Linked DNA regions of Homo sapiens: all the other regions are linked to region 3. Evidence: fine-mapped expression QTL. A gene starts in region 3. Each other region holds a variant in brackets. All regions are shown on one strand. Distances are from middle to middle. Region 1 has its middle 1.4 kb from the start of C19orf38. Region 2 overlaps CARM1 (coactivator associated arginine methyltransferase 1). Region 3 holds the start of CARM1 (coactivator associated arginine methyltransferase 1). Region 4 has its middle 3.9 kb from the start of TIMM29.

Region 1 (2,682 bases), 25 kb before region 3:
GCACTTTGGGAGGCCGAGGCAGGTGGATCATGAGGTCAGGAGATCGAGACCATCCTGGCTAACATGGTGAAACCCCATCTCCACTAAAAATACAAAAAATTAGCCATGCATGGTGGTGGGTGCCTGTAGTCCCAGCTACTCAGGAGTCTGAGGCAGGAGAATGGCGTGAACCTGGGAGGCAGAGCTTGCAGTGAGCCGAGATCACGCCATTGCACTCCAGCCTGGGCGACAGAGCAAGACTCCGTCAAAAAAAAAAAAAAAAAAGAGGGTTTAAAGTTAATGAGCTGCCTGTAATCCCAGCACTTTGGGAGGCTGAGTCAGGAGGATTGCTTGAGCCCAGGAGTTCAAGATCAGGCTGGGTAACATAATAGGACCCTGTCTCTACAATTTTTTTTTTTTTAATTAGCCAGGTGTGGTGGTGGACACCTGTAGTCCCAGCTACTCAGGAGGCTGAGATGGGATGATCTCTTGAGCCCAGCAGGGTGAGGCTGCAGTGAGTCATGATCATGCTGCTTCACTGTAGCCTGAGCAATAGAGCAAGACCCTGTCTCAAAAAAAAAATGTTTTTTTGTTGTTTTTTTTTTGAGACAGAGTCTCGCTCTGTTGCCCAGGCTGGAGTGCAGTGGCATGATCTCAGCTCACTGCAAGCTCTCCTTCCCGGGTTCACGCCATTCTCCAGCCTCAGCCTCCCGAGTAGCTGGGACTACAGGCACCCACTACCACATCTGGCTAATTAAAAAAAATTTTTTTTTAATAAAAAGAGTTTATATAAGCATCCATCTTAAGAAGCTATTAATACAAATTTCTGCTGGTGAAGTTTAAATTTAAAAACAAAACATGAGCTAGGAAAAGAAGAGCCAATTGAACATAAGGTAACCAGAAAAAAGAAAAGAATAAAGTCAAGTCAAAAGGCAATAAAATAGAAAATAAAACAACAAATCCAAACTGTGGCACTTTGAAAAGATCAATAACAATGATTAGCTCCTAGGAAGACCGATAAGAGACAAGGAGACTTCACTAATTTATGTGTCAGGAATGAAAGAAGGAACATCACTACAGACCCTACAGACATTAAAAGGATAGTAAGGGGATATAAATAACTTTACACCAATACATTTGACAACTCTGATGAAATGAGCAAATTCCTTGAAGATACAAGCATGCCAATTGCAATAAAGGAATATTACAGGGCACTGTGGGAGAATTTAGCTAGGGGATTGTTCTAAGTCCAGAGGGGCCTGGAAAGTTTTCCCAGAAGTGCTATTTAAACTGAGACCTGAAGGAGAAGCAGGATTTGACCAGGTTGACAGAATTGTGTTCCAGGCCAGGGAAATAGTGTGTGCAAAGGCCCTGAGGTTGGATTGAACTTTCTGTGTCCAAAGAAAAAAGTTTACTCTAATGACGCATTTTGGTGTTTGATGACCAC[A/G]TGCCACATCCTTCTTGGGTCCAAACCCCCAAGCAAACCTGACTGGCTTGAACAGAAATGTTTAAAAAGATAAATGCAAACCCAGTAGTAAGAGAAACTTGGAAGTTTCTGGGCTGTAAACAGGAGGCAGTTTATCCTGTGAACTATATCACAAACTATATCCAGAATTGATCTGGAACTGGTATTCCCTTTCATGTGGCTGATCAAACTTCTGAGTCTTTTTCCTCCCTGTAACTTTACCTTGTGAGCATGCACTACCCACTAGGCGTTGCATTTCCTACTACAAGTTCTTTGAATCTAATGTCCACTGCTCTTTTTTTTTTTTTTTTTTTTTGAGATGGAATTTCACTCTTGTTGCCCAGGCTGGAGTGCAATGGCGCGATCTCAACTCACCACAATCTCCATCTCCTGGGTTCAAGTGATTCTCCTGCCTCAGCCTCCCGAGTAGCTGGGATTACAGGCGTGTGCCACCACGCCCGGCTAATTTTTTGTATATAGTAGAGACGGGGTTTCACCACGTTGGCCTGGTCTCGAACTCCTGACCTCAGGTGATCTGCCCACCTCAGCCTCCCAAAGTGCTGGGATTACAGGCGTGAGCCACCACGTCTGGCCTAATGTCTACTACTCTTAGCCCCATTCTGCAGAGCAGTATACTGAAGCCTCAAAGGAGGTAAGCCATGCCTGAGGTCACAGAGGCCAAGCCCTAACCACCATGTCCTCCCACTCCTGCCCATATTTGTTTAAATGTTGGTGCTGGTTAGGCTATGGTTTGTGTCTTGGGCATGGGTTTCCAAACATCCCACTGCTGTCACCCTGTCTCATTCCCAGGAGTTCTCTTAGAAGGAGAGACAAAAGGCTGGGCACGGTGGCTCACGCCTGAAATCCCAGCACTTTGGGAGGCTGGGGCGGGCAGATAATGAGGTCAAGAGATCGAGACCATCCTGGCCAACACAGCAAAACCCCGTCTCTACTAAAAATACAAAAATTAGCTGTGCATGATGGCTCCTGCCTGTAGTCCCAGCTACTCAGGAGGCTGAGGCAGGAGAATCACTCGAACCTGGGAGGTGGAGGCTGCAGTGAGCCGAGATCGCTCCACTGCACTCCAGCCTGGGCAACAGAGCAAGACTCTGTCTCAAAAAATAAAAATAAAAAAAGAGGAAAAAATTGTGAAAACCACCTAAACATCTCATCCATTTTTTTCCCCTCTAATCTGCAGAACCGCAACCAGAGAGGTGCGCGGGTCTGATGTGTGTTTG
Region 2 (2,682 bases), 44 kb after region 3:
AGATGGGGTTTCACCGTGTTGGTCAGGCTGGTCACGAACTCCTGACCTCAGGTGATCTACCCGCCTCAGCCTCCCAAAGTGTTGGGATTATAGGCATGAGCCACTGTGCCTGGCCTGGGTGACTGTTTCTATTTGCCCATCTGTCTTGGGGTCTGTGCAGCCCTGACGCCTGAGGCATGTGCCTGTGGCTCTTCTCATGCTAGGTATGTGAGCGTCTGAGCATTTCTGTACAGGCAAGCAGCTGTGTGTGCGTGTGGCAGGGTACAGGTCCCCAGCCAGGGTAGCAGCCATGGGATGGAGCGTGGGCAGCAGCAGGCTGGTGGGGCTTGTGCAGGCAGGGGCAGGGGGGAAGCTTCCACTCTCATCTCTGGCCCGCCCTGGATCCAGGCCCTAGGGTCCTGGCTGGCTGTGCTCCTGGAGGTGGGAGGTGGCGTCCCACAGCTGTGTCTCATGTCTTGGGTGTGAGTATGGGAAGCAAGGCTGCTCCAGGGGCTGTGGGCCCCACTCTCCTCCCCTTCTGCCCTGATGGTGGGGATGGGGGTGGGGACAGCCCCAGCAGAGAGGGCCCCTCCCGATGGGACATGAAGCCAGATGGCAGTCAGGCTCTGTGGGCAGCTGCATGTGCCCCCGACGTCCCAGCAGCCAGCTTGCAGGGAGGGGGGAGGCCAGGCCTGTGCAAGGAGGACTCCTGTCCAGCTCAGGAAGCTCTTCCAGGGGTTAAAGGCAGCCCTCCCCTCTCCCAGTCACATGTCTTCTGGTCAGCAGGAGCCAGAGGTTCCTTCCAGGCTGGGTCACTTCCCATGGTGCCCCCAGGTCCCCCAGGGCAGAAGCCGCAGCATGTGCATCTCCCTCCCCGTTCCAGCAGCTGCAGCCCTGCAGCTCTCGCCTCGGGTACAGCCTGGTGGCGTAAGGAGGAGGCAGAGTCCCACTGATACCTCAGGATCTCCTCCCCCAGCTTGCAAGGCTGGGGGGCCCACATCTGGAGGCCAGGTGCTCCTTGGGGCAGGCGGGGCTGCGGGGCCCTGATCCTCCCTGCCACTGGCCCTGACTCATGCGTCTACCCTTGAGTCACAGAGGGAGGCCCTGCCCTTCCCTCAGTCTGTGTGCCCAGACCAGGCAGGCCAAGTGGCCCATCCTGCCGGCTGGGTGCCTGTGCCAGAACCTAGGCAGTCCCTGTGGTGTGGATTTGGCTTCCCCCACCTGGCTCTTGGCCTCAACTGAGGTCCCCAGCGGCGTTGGGGTAGCCCGGGGCCCACCACCCTCCCTCTGTCCAGAGCAACTTTGCTATGCTTTCCCGGCTGCACACATGCACAGACGGCAGGGCCTGAGAGGCAGCGCCTGGCCACATCCCGGGCACTGCCTGCTTCCCCGTGAGTCTTTGGCAGGTCCCTCACACCTGCCAGGTCTAGTAATAGGACATAAAGATGAGCCACCAGCCTCCCAGTCTCAGGTGGAATTCGTGAGCTGGTGCAGGTCAGGTACCCGTGGTGGTGATGAAACACTGATCAGAATAGGCGCTCGGTGCCACTGTCACAGGAGTGCAGGAA[C/T]GAATGGATGACAGGCTGGGAGCACCCAGGGTTGGGGGTCTTGGGGTCCTTTGGAAGCTCTGCCAGGCAGTGTGGGATGTGTCACCTGACGCCAGCACCCCTCCCTGCCCCACTCCCAGGAAACATGTTTCCTACCATTGGTGACGTCCACCTTGCACCCTTCACGGATGAACAGCTCTACATGGAGCAGTTCACCAAGGCCAACTTCTGGTGAGTGTGCCCTGGGTGTCCCGCCTGGGCCCCACAGCCTGCCTTCTCAGGGACAGCCCCAGCTCCCCAGAGAGCCTGCACTCCTCTTTTTCTGAAAGACTTGGGCTAGATGAGGGCTGACTGGGAGAGAAGGCAGGGCTACCCCACCTGCCTCTTCTGCAGCCCTGACCTTGCTGTGGGGGTGGGGCCTGTCCACAGGTACCAGCCATCTTTCCATGGAGTGGACCTGTCGGCCCTCCGAGGTGCCGCGGTGGATGAGTATTTCCGGCAGCCTGTGGTGGTGAGTAGGGCCTCCAGGGTACTGCTGCAGTGATCACTTGCCATTGCTGTGCAGCTGTGCAGCCCTCAGGAAGCTACAGCCCCTCTCTGAGCCCTCTCCTCTGCCCTGCACAGCGCTCTCACAGAGATTTGGGCCAAAAGTGTCAATGCATGTAGACACTTAGCACACAGCACACATGCAATACATGTGGAACATTATTAGGTGAGGCTAAGGCAGAGGGGGCATTTAGGCTCAGGAGTTCAAGATCAGCCTGGGCAACACAGAGACGCCATCGCTATTTTTAAAATTAAAATAAATAAATAATAAAAATAAAAAAGAACCATTACTAGATGAATTTATCCTTGGTGAGCTGATGTGATTTATTGATTGATTTTACTTGAGATTTTTGATACATAGATCCATGATTTAAAAATCAAAAGGAAAAAAAAGCTAGGTGCAGTGGGTCACACCTGTAATCCCAGCACTTTGGGAGGCCAAGGCGGGCAGATCACGAGGTTAGGAGATTGAGACCAACACGGTGAAACCCCATCTCTACTAAAAATACAAAAAATTAGCCAGACGTGGTGGCGGGCGCCTGTAGTCCCAGCTACTCAGGAGGCTGAGGCAGGAGAATGGCGTGAACCCGGGAGGCAGAGCTTGCAGTGA
Region 3 (2,682 bases):
AGGCGGAGGTTGCGGTGAGCTGAGATCGAGCCATTGCACTCCAGCCTGGGAGACAGAGCGAGACTCCGTCTCAAAGAAAAAAAAAAAAAAAAAAAAGGAATGAGGCGTAAATGAGGTCTAGGGAAGAGTTAAAGCTGGAGTGCTAGGAAGTGGCCCAAGCTCACTGGGTCGCCCAAAAGAGATGGGGCCACCCAAAATGAAGGGGGATGCAGAGAGAAGACGGGTTTGTGTGGCGGGAGAGGGGCCCTGCGCCGGGCCAGGCTGGACTCAGCATCGTTGGAGGAGGGGCTGAGAGAGGAGGGGGTCAAAGGATATCTTGTGCGAAAGGAGACAGTCAAACATTAAGGATTAAGAAGGCAATGTGGGCAGAGATGATGGGGAAGGGAGGAGGAGCGGTCGAATGTCGGGGAGGGGTCCTTTCAACCGGGCTCAGGTTGCTCCTGGAGGCCAGGGCTCATCGGAAATCGTCGGTGCGGGGGCGGTGGGGGGAAGGGTTGGGGGCGAGGCCCGGGCGCTGGCCACGCCCTTTCCCCCGCCCATTCCCCAGAGCGGGGCGGCTGACAAAGCGAGTCCGGGTGGGAGGGCGCGGGCAGGCACGGGGGCGGGGCCTCGTCGCGGCTGGGCCACGCCTCCCTGAGGGCTGCCTCACAAAGCCGGGCGGGCCCGGGGGGGTGGGGCCCAGTCTCAGGGGCGTGTCCAGGTCGGGGCAGGGAAGCCGCATCACGACGCGCGGCTGCTTGTGTGGGGCGGGGTACAGGGCGTGTCCACGCGGCCGAGCACCGCCCCCGCCGTCCCCGCACCGCCTCACTCGAAAGCAGCCGTTAATGAGGCGCCGGCCTGGGGGCGGGGCCCAGGCCTCCGAGGGGCGTGCCCGCGCGCCCGAGCACCGCCCCCGACGTACCCTCCCGCCCCGCAGTTCCCGGGCGGTGGAGCCACCTCACAAAGCGGCGACCGTTCTCGCGGGGCGGGGCGTAGCCGGTCCCGCCCCACGGGGTGCCCTCTCGTTCGCTCGCTAGCTCCCCGCGCCCAGGACGGCCGGCAGAGGGCGCTGCGCCACGGGGCCGGGCCGCGGCGACGGTGGCGGCGGCGGCGGCGAGGCGGCGCGTGGCCGGCAGGCGGCGCTGCCCGGCTCGGCCTCGGCCTGCACGGCGGCTGCGGCGGCGGTAGCGGCAGCGGCGGCGGCGGCGGCGGCGGCGGCGGCGGCGGCGGCGGCGGCGGCGGCAGCGGCGGCGGCCTGGGCCCGGGCGCAGCGGCGGCGGCGGCGGGGCCTGGAGCCGGATCTAAGATGGCAGCGGCGGCGGCGGCGGTGGGGCCGGGCGCGGGCGGCGCGGGGTCGGCGGTCCCGGGCGGCGCGGGGCCCTGCGCTACCGTGTCGGTGTTCCCCGGCGCCCGCCTCCTCACCATCGGCGACGCGAACGGCGAGATCCAGCGGCACGCGGAGCAGCAGGCGCTGCGCCTCGAGGTGCGCGCCGGCCCGGACTCGGCGGGCATCGCCCTCTACAGCCGTGAGTACGGGGCCCCGGGGCAGGCGCAGGGCCGGGGCTGCTCACGAGGCCGGCCCGGGGCGGGGGCCGGCGGGGAGGGGCCCTGAGCGCGGGGGCCTGGCGTGGGGTCCCCGGGACTGAGCCGGTGGCCTGCAGGGAGCGACCGTGGAGGGCCGGTGCCAGGGGACAGACAGAGAAAAGAGGGCGTGCGTGGTGGCCGGAGGGGCAAGGTGCCCAGAGTGAGCAAGGGAGCGCGAAATGGGGAGTGAAGGGCCTGAGATTTGGGAGGGGTGGGTGAGCAGGAAGTGGGGGGCTCTGAGTGGAAGGGGAATTTGGAGGACGCCAGGCGTGGTGGGCTTAAGCGTGGGGGAGGGAGGTCCGGGGTGCGGGAGAGGTGGGCGTCTCGGGGGCGGGCGTGGCCGCCTCTGCAGGGAGGAGGGTGGGGCGTGGGCGGCCCGGGATCCCTCTGGGGACCCCCTGGATAGCTCAGGACGGTTGGAAAGTGTTTGCTGGTCTGGGGCGCCCGCGAGTACCGAGTTCCACCGCTGTGCGAGGTGTGGCGTTCAGGACCCCCGAATGGGAAACTTCAGGATCTGGGGAGAGGGCCCATGCGGGGACGGTGGGAGCCGCAGGGTGAGCTCCTCGTGGAAACGTGGACGGGACGGGCCCCTTCCTGATGCCGGGCTTCGAAGTAAGAGCTAACAGCCTCCTCCCATCTTCTTTTGGGGGATGTGAGAAGCTGGTTACATTTTCCGAAGCTGCTTTCAAAACTGACATTTCACTGGGGGGAAAAGAAAATCACAAATGCGTTTGCCAGCACCCCCCACCCCCGCTCCCAGTCTTTGTAGTTCATTCTTCTTCTTGTTACTCCTTCTTATCTCTTCTCTTTGATTCCTTGTTCACATTTTGCTACTCTGTGTCATTTGGCTTTGTCTTTCAGGGCTTCTTGCACTGATGCCCTGGGGAACCCCTCAGGAGGCCTCTAGCTAGCTTGGGTCCTGTGTGAATTTTTTGCCACTTTGGAAACGGCCCGATTAAAGGAAAGCCCGAGGAGCAGTCCGTTCACACTGGGTTTTCCCTGCACCTCGACTTTGAAAACGTGGACTAAAGGAGTTGTGTCTGCTGTCCGAGGGTGCCGTCTCTTTTTGCTGGTGCAGAGCCTGGGTCTTCTTGGACCAGATGAGAGGGGAAGGAGGGT
Region 4 (2,646 bases), 61 kb after region 3:
CTGGGCGACAGAACAAGACTCCGTCTCAAAAAAAAAAAAAAAAAAAAAATAGCTGGGCGTGGTGGCAGGCATCTGTAGTCCCAGCTACTCAGGAGGCTGAGGCAGGAGAATAGCGTGAACCCGGGAGGTGGAGCTTGCAGCAAGCAGAGATTGCACCACTGCACTCCAGCCTGGGCAACATAGTGAGACTCCAGCTCAAAAAAATAAATAAATAAGTAACATTTTTGTTTTGATTTTTTTAAGTTTTTTTTTGAGACAGAGTTTCGCTCTTGTTGCCCAGGCTGGAGTGCAGTGGCACTCGCCCCAACCACCGCCTCCTGGGTTCAAGCGTTTCTCCTGTCTCAGCCTCCCAAGTAGCTGGGATTACAGGCGCATGCCACCACGCCCGGCTAATTTTTGTATTTTTTAGTAGAGATGAGATTTCATCATGTTGGTCAGGCTGGCCTCAAACTCCTGACCTCAGGTGATCCGCCTGCCTCAGCCTCCCAAAGTGCTGGGATTGCAGACGTGAGCCACCGTGCCCGGCCCTCGTTCCCTATTAAAAATACAAAACCAGGCAATTGACAGTGTCATGACTATTGGGATGTTACAGGGAAGTTTTTTGTAAAACAACCTGTTTACCAGATGAGCATTGTAAGTTACTGGAGGTGGCTTGGAAGGATAAAGCATTTTCTGGTCTGGAAATCTATATGGAATCATAGATTCTGGTTATGTTGTACTTCAGTAACCCTGAAACAGAATTCTATGAAAAGAAGTAAGTTAGTGTACACAGCTGGTACTTAGCTAGGTTATGGTAAATTGTATTTTTGTTGTTGTTGTTGTTGTTGAGACAGAGTCTCACTCTGACACCCAGGCTGGAGTGCAGTGGCACGATTTCGGCTCACTGCAACCTCTGCCTCCCAGGTTCAAGTGATTCTCTTGCCTCAGCCTCCTGGGTAGCTGGGATTACAGGCATATGCCATGATGCCCAGCTAGTTTTTGTATTTTTAGTAGAGATGGGGTTTCACCATGTTGGCCAAGCTGGTCTCAAACTCCTGACCTCAAGTGATCCTCCCACCTCGGCCTCCCAAAGTGCTGGGATTATAGGTGTGAGCCACTGCGCCCGGCCAATATTTTTTTTTTTTTTTTTTTTTTTTTGAGACAGAGTTTCACTCTATTGCCTAGGCTGGAGTACAGTGGCATGATCTCGGCTCACTGCAGCCTCTGCCACCTGGGTTCAAGCGATTCTCCTGCCTCAGCCTCCCAAGTAGCTGGGATTACAGGCATCTGGCACTGCGTCCGGCTAATTGTTGTATTTTTAGTAGAGACGGGATTTCACTATCTTGGCCAGGCTGGTCTTGAACTCTTTGTGATCCACCTGCCTTGGCCTCCCAAAGTGCTGGGATAATAGGCGTGAGCCACCACACCCGGCCTCAATACTTTTTATTTTTTTTAAGTGTAATTTATGGCCGG[C/T]GCAGTGGCTCACACCTGTAACTACAACACTTTGGGAGGCCAAGGTGGGAGGATCGCTTGAGTCCAGGAGTTCGAGACCAGCCTAGGCGACATGGTGAAATCCTGTCTCTACAAAATACACAAAATTACAAAATACACAAAAATTAATCGGGTATGGTACACACCTGTACTACCAACTATTCAGGAGGCTGAGGTGGAAGAATTGCTTGAGCTTGGGAGGTTGAGGCTGCAGTGAGCCAAGACTGCATCACTGCACTCCAGCCTAGGTGACAGAGCAAGCCCCGTCTCAAAAAATTAATAAGGCTGGATGCGGTGGCTCACGCATGTGATCCCAGCACTTTGGGAGGCTGAGGTGGGTGGATCACAAGGTCAAGAGCTCAAGACCATCCTGGCCAACATGGTGAAACCCCGTCTAACAAAAATTAGCTGGGCGTGGTGGCGCACGCCTGTAATCCCAGCTACTTGGGAGACTGAGGCAGGAGAATCACTTGAACCCGGGAGGTGGAGGTTGCAGTGAGCCGAGATCACGCCACTGCGTTCCAGTCTGGGCAACAGAGTGAGACTCCGTCACACAAAAAAAAAAAAAGAGAAAAAATAAATAACATAAAACTGAAGTATTAAGGGAGTGATGCTACCTCAGGGGCCTGTGGCAAGTTAATAAAACCAGGTGGTAAAACAACTATCTTTGTTTGTGATACTTGTTTTTGTGTGTTTGCTACTTTCAAATTTTGGCATTTGACCCTTGCATTCATAATCAGTGGGTTGAACAGGTGTTGGTTTAAGTCAGCATCTCACTTTTACAGAGGAAAAGCTGAGGTTCAGAAAATTTATTTTTCCAAGGCTGTGGCAGGACCAAGATTCGAACTGTAACTCCCAGCTCTGTGACTTAATCCTCAAACTTGTGGACTTTGATCCTAATAATTCTTGTCAGAAATAGTTAAATACTGCTATCAGTTGCCATAAATAAAAATTGGATATAGAAATACATATATAAAGCCGGGCGTGGTGGCTCACGCCTGTAATCCCAGCACTTTGGGAGGCCGAGGCGGGCAGATCACAAGGTCAGAAGATCGAGACCATCCTGGCTAACACAGTGAAACCCCGTCTCTACTAAAAATATTTAAAAAATTAGCCGGGCGTGGTGGCAGGTGCCTGTAGTCCCAGCTACTCGGGAGGCTGAGGCAGGAGAATGGC

What was found. PIP is the estimated chance that this variant, and not a neighbour inherited with it, causes the effect. A credible set is the group of variants that fine-mapping cannot tell apart.
Region 1: its variant is the best candidate, but not a certain one, in a credible set for the expression of CARM1 in whole blood (TOPMed, PIP 0.57).
Region 2: its variant is the best candidate, but not a certain one, in a credible set for the expression of CARM1 in whole blood (TOPMed, PIP 0.80).
Region 4: its variant is the best candidate, but not a certain one, in a credible set for the expression of CARM1 in blood mononuclear cells (TOPMed, PIP 0.50).

The regions. Positions count from the first base shown.
Region 1 is chr19:10,845,631-10,848,312 of GRCh38, forward strand. It overlaps a transcript of C19orf38 not described here. Among named protein-coding and RNA genes, the nearest start is that of C19orf38, 1.4 kb to the right of the region's middle. The variant A/G (reference allele first, on the strand shown) is at 1,427.
Region 2 is chr19:10,914,741-10,917,422 of GRCh38, forward strand. It overlaps CARM1 (coactivator associated arginine methyltransferase 1), which reads left to right. Exons shown (of 16, transcript NM_199141.2): 7 at 1,667-1,757; 8 at 1,956-2,037. Among named protein-coding and RNA genes, the nearest start is that of YIPF2, 13 kb to the right of the region's middle. The variant C/T (reference allele first, on the strand shown) is at 1,548.
Region 3 is chr19:10,870,418-10,873,099 of GRCh38, forward strand. It overlaps CARM1 (coactivator associated arginine methyltransferase 1), which reads left to right and starts at 1,136. Exons shown (of 16, transcript NM_199141.2): 1 at 1,136-1,505. The coding sequence starts at 1,286. RefSeq lists silencers at 396-1,185, 1,316-1,365, 1,456-1,665 and an enhancer at 2,406-2,585.
Region 4 is chr19:10,931,402-10,934,047 of GRCh38, forward strand. No RefSeq gene overlaps it. Among named protein-coding and RNA genes, the nearest start is that of TIMM29, 3.9 kb to the left of the region's middle. The variant C/T (reference allele first, on the strand shown) is at 1,453.